Linked DNA regions of Homo sapiens: region 1 is linked to region 2. Evidence: fine-mapped expression QTL. A gene starts in region 2. The other region holds a variant in brackets. All regions are shown on one strand. Distances are from middle to middle.

Region 1 (4,382 bases), 25 kb after region 2:
ATGACACCTCGCTGTCTGCCCTTAGTTGGGCTTTGAGCTTCTTCTGAAATAGGAATGTACCTATTTGGGGTCCCCATACTTTCATCTCTTTCTATAACTTTCTAGAGAATATAATGCATTTGAATAATTTAATAACTTGCTGGTGTGGCTGCAGGGCCTGGTGCAATGCCTGCATGTGGTAGGCCCTCATGAAAAGGTGACTTCTATATTCTGTATGTATACATCTACTTACTGAGCACTTGCTGTGTACAGGCATTGGCTGAATGCCTTACATCTGACCACAGCTCTCCTGAACCCTCCCGGCACCCCCATTTTATAAAGGAAACTAAAGCTCTAGGAAGCTTGATATTATGTGGCAAGGTCATGGAGAAAGTGGCAGAGTTAGAGTTTAAACCCAGGACACTCTTCTACCATGGAAGACACCACACTGCCTGCCTACTGGTGGTGTCTCTCTGGGGAGATGGCTCCATAAGCTGTGGCTGCTCTAGACATTTGGTGGCTCTCTGGACCACAGGACTGCTCTGCCTCAGGGTGAGCACCAAGCACATCCTCTCCCACCAAGGATGCTGCATGGGATAGGAGGCCAAGGACTCATGAACCTGTTGAAGCAGTAAGCCTGGCCTAGTAAAGACTCCAACAAGCTGCTGTTGGGACAGGGCAGCCCTGTGATCAGGTGACTGCCCTGTAAATGGTGATTTGAGAGGCCGAAGGGACCTCCACATGCCAACCCACTGCCCATCCCTTTGCCTTTCATTGCTGGACCTGTGAGCCTTGCTTGAAGGCTCTATGCATCTCCCTTTAGGATTCCAGCCCGCTTGGCTGTGATAACACTTCTGTCCCTTCTCACACTAATGGAGTGTTAGGACTAGATGGGATCTCACAGTCCAGCGGAGCCATAGGGTGTGAGGTGCTTTGGGGGCTCTGCAGCGGTTTCAAATTCTGTTAAGAAAATTTTTAGCTACAGTTTTAAAAACGGATTTAAAAAAATAACATACACTCAACTATGGTCAAAGGGTTACACTGAATACTGGTGATCTGTTACCTTGTACTGTGGTGTTACTTTTTGCAGCTTTTAGAGTCCGCTTATTAGATCTGTGCATATTATTCAACTTCTTACATGGCAAGCATGGGCTAGGAGGGCTGCTGTGGTGCACTGGTCATTTGAAAAAAGACGTCCACTTAGGACGTACACATGCATGTGTAAAGCTGTGTGAGTGCACCAAAGCCCAGGTACACTGAGCCCCATCACGTACATCGGGGTGGGGGATACAGTGTGGTCCATGGCTCTGAGTTTCTGATGGTGTCAGTTCCCATAAGGTTTGAGTACCATTTGTCTGACCAATATATTTACCATAAACGATTCATATGAACAATTGGTCATTGCTGTCAGTGGCTAACTGTAAAATAAAACATTTCTGCTATTCCTTTGTTAAGCATCTACATTGGTTTGATGGATGCCTAAGTTGGGAAGGCAACTTAGGTGAGTGAGGATTTCCTTGACACTGTGCTGAGACAATATACAGAAATAAGCTGTGTGTAGGTATGAGATTGCCACTGGCCCTTGTGACCCTGGCTCTCAGAATTTTTTGTCCTTTAAGTCTCATGGATGACTTTAAAAAGAAGTGTCTACAATGGATACTAATACATTCATGCTAAAAAAAAACCCCACTTCTACATTAATATTGAAGTCTTGCATTAATTTTACATAATAAAACATGTTCCACTGTTAAAGTTTTAAAGCTACCAATCTAATCCCCGGAGAAAACTTCAGATTAGAGACGTTAAATAATTTATGGGAGGATGCACAGATTTCCACTGTCTGCTGAATTGCTGACAAGTGGCAGGATAGTGGGCAGCCTGATAATATTAATTACATGAGATAATAAATCATAACTATCCCTGGGGCCAACTCTTCCTTCCAGGCTGGGCGTGGCCAGGCTAATCAACAGGAATGGCCAGGGAAGGAGAGGACCTGATAAGTGACTCAGCAAGAGGAAGCCAAAGCATCACAATAACAATCCCCCCCACCGCCCCCCACTCTGCGTGGAGTGACAGCAAGGGCCCCTGGCTAAGAGTCGGTCAGCCCTCCCCTGGCCATCCCACTAGGGCCTCGCCTATAAAAGAGATAATACCAAAGAGTGGAGGGGGCCTCCCTTCTCCTGGCTTCATTCTATATGGAAGTACTGCTGCTGTTGTAACACTCCTGAGCCTTGTCCCCAGGGAGGGAGTGGCAA[C/T]ATTGGGTGGGTGGGCCCACTGGGCAGATCTGTCTGGCCTGCCATCTCATGCTGAGCCTCCAGGCAGGCTCTAAGCCTGCAGGAGGCCTGCAGTTGTTCACCTCTGCGTAGCAAGGCCACTGGGGCCACACTTGTAAATACATCCTCCAATCCAGATTTGTATAGAAGTAAAGCTGATACTTTCTCTCCATCATTTCTGGGTCTCATCTGTCAGCTGGTTTTGAACACAGGGCAGCTGTCTGCAGCTTCCTCACCCACACCAAATACCACCTGCTCTCTCTTCCTCCCGGAGTGGGTTGTAAGGACCAAATGAAGTCACCTGACCCTGGGGTGGTGCTTCACAGATATACTCTGGGCAGGTGAGGGTTATTCCTCCACACAGAGCACAGGTCCTGCACTTGAGGGCACAGGGGTGAGAGGAGGTGCTTGCACCAAAGATGTGGAGTCTTCCTGTCCACATAGCGAGCATACCTGGGCAAATGCCACGAATGCAGAGTTTTCCACACAAGGCATTTGTTCTGAGAACATGCTTTCTTGGCCTCTGATTTATTATTTTTATTATTTTTTTATTTTGAGACGGAGTCTCGCTCTGTCGCCCAGGCTGGAGGGCAGTGGCGCGATCTCGGCTCACTGCAACCTCCGCCTCCCAGGTTCAAGCAATTCTCCTGCCTCAGCCTCCTGAGTAGCTGGGATTACAGGTGTCCGCCACCATGCCCAGCTAATTTTTGTATTTTTAGTAGAGATGGGGTTTCACCGTGTTGGTCAGGCTGGTCTTGAACCCCTGACCTCGTGATGCACCTGCTTTGGCCTCCCAAAGTGCTGGGATTACAGGCGTGAGCCACCGTGCCCGGCTGTCTTGGCCTCTGATTTCTAAAGCTTTTCCATATTTGGGGGTGGGGGTTCCTTGCCAGCCCTTCATTTCCTTTTAAGACCTGGGAAGTGGTATGCAGCTGTGACATGTCATTTCAATCAACCTTCCTGAGTTTATTCTTCATAATTGCTATAGAAATAGATGTTTTTCCCCAAATATTCAATTATTAGCAGCAAATTGCTTACCTCTAGCCATCCTAGACAGTACGCAGGCACCTAAGGGGGTCAAGCAGCTCTCCACTTTTCATCTGAGCAGATCTATGTGTTTCTACACAGAGTAATAGGCCAGAAATGGACCACTGGGAGAAAAAAAATGTTTCCAGAGGTGTCTGTGAGTCATTCTAGGGCCTGTACTTACAGAGCAGCCGCAGGACCAGTGTTGTACGGTGTTGGATGGGGCACAGGATGACTCCAGTGGGCCATGGTGAGGTGGCTAGACACTTGGGGTGCCGACACTCATGAGTTTGTCGGAGGAAGCTGATCCTTGTGAATGGCAGAATTGTGCCACTGGCCTGTTTAAAGGGGGCTGTGGTGGCTGCTCTGGCAGGGGCCTTGGATAGGACTGGGCAGGCTGTACAGTGGGGGATATGCTGGCTGCCTCCGGCAGTTTTGGGCCACGCAGATGCCCAGAGGGATCAGGAGGGAGGATGCCAGAGGAGAATGGACATCTGCTCCAGATGATACTGAGGACTCACCCCTGAAAGGTGGAGTCTGCAGCATGTCCACACTGTGAATATGGGGCCAGTGACAAGTGTCTAGATATTCAAGGTTTGTCTCTGGGGGTGATTGATGGCTGTGTGGTGATGGAGGTTTAAAGACACAATGCTCAGAAGGATGGATTCTCCCTTGTCCTCTGCTTTCCTTACCTCTTGAGTAAGAAAACATTTTAGGCCGGGCATGGTGGCTCATGCCTGTAATCCCAGCACTTTGGGAGGCTGAAGCGGGTGGATCACCTGAGCTCAGGAGTTCGAGACCAGCCTGACCAATACGGTGAAACCCTGTCTCTACTAAAAATACAAAAATTATCCAGGTGTGGTGGCGCATGCCTGTAATCCTAGCTACTCCAGAGGCTGAGGCTGGAGAACTGCTTGAACCCAGGAGGCAGAGGTTGCAGTGAGCCGAGATCACGCCACTGCACTCCAGCCTGGGCCACAGGGTGAGACTCTGTCTCAAAAAAAAAGAACCAATGAAAGATGTGAATTCTCAAATTTAAAAAAAACCAGTGATTTCCAAGTAAAATAAATATAAAATCTATACCTAGAAAAACTATAGTGAAAA
Region 2 (4,382 bases):
CTGCCAGCAGCTGCCGCTGCCGCCGCCGCTGCCGCCGCCACGGCTGCCGCCACGGCCTTGGCTTGGCTCTGAGCAGCGGGGTAGGACGGTACCGGGAGGCTGCCTGCTGCTGGCCAGAACATGGGAAACGTCGGGTACACAGTGGCGGCGGCGGCCGCTGCAGCCACTGCCGCTGCGTCCTTGGCTGCCCCGGAGGGTTGATGCCCCCAGAACATGGCGCCGCCGCCCGGGCCCGCCCCTGCCCCCGGGGGCAAGTGGCTGGCTCCCGGGCCCCCCGCACCCCCGCCTGTCCCCGCGCCGCCGCCGCCGCTCCCAGTGCCAGGACCGCCCTTTGGCTCGCCCGCGCCTAAAACCGGGTCGTCCTTTTTGGGGCATAGGCCGAAGGCCGTAGGGAAGCCGTAAGGATGGGGGAAAAGTGGTGGGGGCAGCTTTTGCAGGAGCCCAAAGCCTTTGCTGGGCACCGGGATCACCGGGTAGCTTCGTACGCCGGCGCCGCCACCGGGCCCTCCTGGGCCCGCCGGGCCACTAGCTCCAGTCGCCAGGCCAAGTCCGCGCTGCGGGTGGGGTGGAGGTGGCCCCGGAGGCCCGGCAGCCTCATCTTCGCCACAGCGCAGGCTTTTGTGGGGCGGCGGGCCTGGGGCCATCTCTGCACCGCACCCTGGGCCACCGCCGCCACCGCCGCCAGCACCACCCTTCCCCTGCCCACCCGACCCGCCATTGGCACCGCCTCCGCCGCCTCCTTGTAGGGAGAAGGTCCGCTTGCGCGTGCCGCCATTAAACATGGCCTTGACGTCCTCCCAAGCATGGCTCAGTTCGTCTGTGGCCGACTTGTCACTGAGTTTGAGGTGACGACGCCAGGAGTTGAAGTTGGCGGCATCGGGCTGCGTGTACTTGGCGTCGGGTGTTCGGTGCGAGTGGAAGATGAACTTGTTGGGCGAGAAGTACATGCTGCAGTAGCCGCACTTGATGCACTTGGCACGAGAGCTGTTGTAACGCGCAGGGATGAAGCTACCACGCGAGCCCCACGCGCACTCGTGCACCACATCGAAGGCGAAGTTCTCGGGCAGCTTGGGTGGTTTGTGCTCGCCCAGGAACGACTTGCACAGGCGTTCGGCCTCTCGCTTAGTGATCATGCCGCAGCGGCGCGACGAGATGGGCATGGCCCCGGCCCGACGCAGAATCTCCAGCTGTACCGGCGTGCACTGCACGCACGTGATGCCCAGGGCCACGCGGCGGTTGTGGATCTCATTATAGCTGTAGTTCTTGAGGAGGGTGTTGGAGATCTGCGCCAGGCATAGGCGCTCCTGGCCGTCGATGACCAGCGACACAATGGGCACCCCGTACAGCGACGTCTCGCCCACCTGGTTGGGTTTGAGAGCGCTGGAGCCCGAGTACGGCTGCAGCTCCTGCTTGGAGTTGGGCGAGGAACTGCCCTCGCGCCCCGGCCCCAGCTGAGTGGTGAGAGCCTCCATGCCGCCGCTCCTGCGAAATAGAGAAAGCAGAGAGCAGATGAGCCATTTTCAGCGCCGCCGCCGAGGCTCGGGCCCGCCCAGCAGGGCGCTCCGAGTTGGGCGCGCGGGGGATACTTGGCAGTGGGGAGTCCAAACTCATTCACCCCCTGGACAGGCGTCTTTTGTTACTCAGACCCATGTTGGCGCCGTTAACAACAGCCCCCGGGGCTTGGGGGAGGAGAAGGGGTAAAGGAGACCTCAGGAATGCCCGGGCTGCAAGGAACCCAATCCCGTTTTCGGATTGGGAAGGAAGTGAAACCCAGATACGCAGAGTGACTTGCCCAAGGCCACACAGCAAAGCCATTGCCAAATCCTGGCTTTTTCAGCGCCCAGATCCGTGCGCCTTCGGCAACCCTCGCAGCCGGTGCTGCCGGCCCGGGTCCTGAAGCCCGGACTTCGGGGATCGGCCGCCCCTCTGCTCAGTCGCGCATGCACGCGGGCGGGCGGGGGCAGTGCAAGGAGGGGTGGGGAGGGGGGAGGGGCGGTCACTGCCCATCTCCAGACAGCAGGGGGTAGAGGGGGGTGAAGAGAAGGAGGGGGGTGAGGAGAAGGAGGAGGGAACCGTGTCTGCCAGGGAAGGAGAGAGGCGGAGGCTACCGCTGTTCGCGGTGCTGAACCTGACCCTCTCCAAAGCGCTCGGTGCGCACCCGGACCTAGCGCGGCCCCCACCGCACCCAGCTTGGTGCCCGAGCCGGCTTCAGGGGACAACATTGCCAGTTTCCACAAACCCGAGCTTCTCCTCTCACGGCTGGCGCCCGCGTTCGTTGAGCAGAAAGATTTCGGCTGGATATATAAACCGTTTTCTTTCCAGCTATTAGTGAGACCAGGATCCTGCAGTTCTAACCACATTTTCTGCATTTTTAGCTGTATTCCAGACCAAAGCTGGTTTCCACCGAGGTCAACGTGTGGGACAGAGAGGTTCTCAAGGAACTTTGTTGGGATCCACTTCTTAGCTTCCAGTCGCCCACTCCTTGAGCTTTCCTCCTTCAGATATACGTTTCCCACTCGGGCCAACTGCAGGATTCGGGGCTCTGGGCTTCCTCTTTGAGGGGCATCACCTCTCTGAGTATCCTTCATGCCTCGCTGTCCCGGCTCATATGGGCTAGAAGGAATCTCAGCCATCTTCGTAGCCATTGCAAGGCTCCAGGCACACAAGTTGCTGCTGGTCCTTGCACTTTGCTTTCTGGCTGAGGCAGGGAGGGAGCTGTGCAGGCAGACCTCAGCAGCGGGGGTACTTGGGGACTGATGTTTGGGGCCCTCTAGGTCGCCTGACCCAGCCACATGTCCTCAGACAAGCCAGGCTCCCATCCGGCCCAAGGCTGCAGGCGCTCCTGCGGCCAGGGCAGCCCAACCCTGAGGGCTCCTCCCCTGCAGTCGGCCCTGAATGTAACTCCGTTTTCAGAGGGGCAGCTCCAGACAGGGGATCCCAGTTCAAAAGCCTTCAGCAAGGAGACTGGAATCTTCTGTTTATCTGTCTCTCTCCCTTCTTCTCTATTTGTCTAGGAGACCCTCATTTGTCGATCTTATCTGTCCCTGAGCTGTCTCTGCCGGCTCGTTCCTCTTTCTCTCATCTGTTTTGTACCTTCTTCAAGTATCAAGCTATTTATGTATTATCTGTCTGTTTCATCTTTATCTCCGAGGATCGAACTAAAATAAGTTGACCCTTATTTCGCGTTGAAGTCCTTTATATCATTGTAGGAGGCAAAAACACTGTCCTAACTCCCCGGCTGACAAGCCTCGCGCCCTCCTGGAGGTGGCTGGAGGGCGCGCAGCGCTGGGAAATGACAGCTTCTCGGTTTCTCGAAATCGGCAACTATGCCTGGCCCGCATACAGTGAAGACAGCGCCCGAGCCGAGAGCGTACCCCAGTTGAGGGTCCTGGGTCCCTGCGCGGTTTTCCCTGAGTGAGAGGAGGGGGGTCCGGGCCCGGAGTCAGAAGAAGGGGGTCCCTAGGAAAGGAACGGAATTTCGGGGGCCAAAGCGGAAAGCACAGGCGAAGAGCCATATGCAGCGACAAGGAGCAGCAGCCAGAGCAGCTTGAGGAACCCCCGTCGGCTCCCGGAGCTAGATGGACGAGCTTGGGGAGGGCAGCGAAGCGGGAGACTGGCAGTGGTGGGAGCGAGGCGGTGGTGTCTTTAGGTATAATCATAAAAACAACAGCCACAGGAGCCCAAATCAGAACTAAACGAAAAAAAAGCTGCAGGAGCAGAGCGCGGGGGCGGCGGGCTACCGGACGTGGGTACTCACAGTGCGGCGGCGGCTGGAGCCGGGCGAGCGGTGAGCGGAGGTGCGCGGCGGGAGGAGCGGCGGGCGGGAGTCCGGGATCCGCCGGGCTCTCCGGGTGACGGCGCGGCCCCTCCCCGCGCGCGCGCACAGCCGTGCTCCCTGGTTCTCCGCGCTCCCACCCGCGGCCCCTCCCGCTCTCAGCGGGCACGGGGCGCCGGGACCCCGGGCGCGGAGATGCGAACCCTGAGCCGTTGACCCCGAGGCCGGGGACTGGCCGGAAGAAGAGGCCGAAGCCTGGAGCGCATGGCGCGGCGGCGGGGACGGCGCGGTCACAGCCCGAGTGGCGGGGCAGGCGCGCCTGACAGCTGAGAGCCGGGGCGCCACACCCACCGCCCGCGCAGTCGCTAGCGCCCTCCCCGGGTCCGCCCGCCCGCGGGCCACGCGCGGCGCCCGCCGCCTCCCCGCAGCCCAAGGCCTGCACGCCCCAGGTAAGCGGCCGCACACCTGCGTCCAGCACCCTGCACCTGCGTCCCGCTCTAGCTGGAGAGGCCAGGAGGGAGGAAAGGCCCTGGGGCCATAAAGTTTGTCCCCAAGAACGAAGTGGGGAGGGCCCAGTGCTCCCGGCCAAGGAGCCAGTTTTGGTCTG

Alleles and levels. Alleles are on the strand shown, and positions count from the first base shown. SD is a standard deviation of normalised expression in the study named.
As copies of T replace C in region 1, the expression in thyroid of the gene that starts at base 1,909 in region 2 goes down (small effect, 0.35 SD a copy in GTEx).

The links. PIP is the estimated chance that this variant, and not a neighbour inherited with it, causes the effect.
Region 1: its variant is the best candidate, but not a certain one, in a credible set for the expression of SKOR1 in thyroid (GTEx, PIP 0.66).

What each region holds. Positions count from the first base shown.
Region 1 is chr15:67,797,594-67,801,975 of GRCh38, reverse strand. All of the region lies in intron 21 of MAP2K5 (mitogen-activated protein kinase kinase 5), which reads right to left. Among named protein-coding and RNA genes, the nearest start is that of SKOR1, 26 kb to the left of the region's middle. The variant C/T (reference allele first, on the strand shown) is at 2,235.
Region 2 is chr15:67,823,036-67,827,417 of GRCh38, reverse strand. It overlaps SKOR1 (SKI family transcriptional corepressor 1), which reads right to left and starts at 1,909. Exons shown (of 9, transcript NM_001365915.1): 1 at 1,709-1,909; 2 at 1-1,482. The coding sequence starts at 1,815. It overlaps LOC124903570, which reads right to left and starts at 4,041. Exons shown (of 4, transcript XM_047433429.1): 1 at 3,979-4,041; 2 at 3,375-3,459; 3 at 2,016-2,779; 4 at 1,834-1,905. The coding sequence starts at 4,041. The coding sequence ends at 1,834. RefSeq lists enhancers at 1-2, 3-641.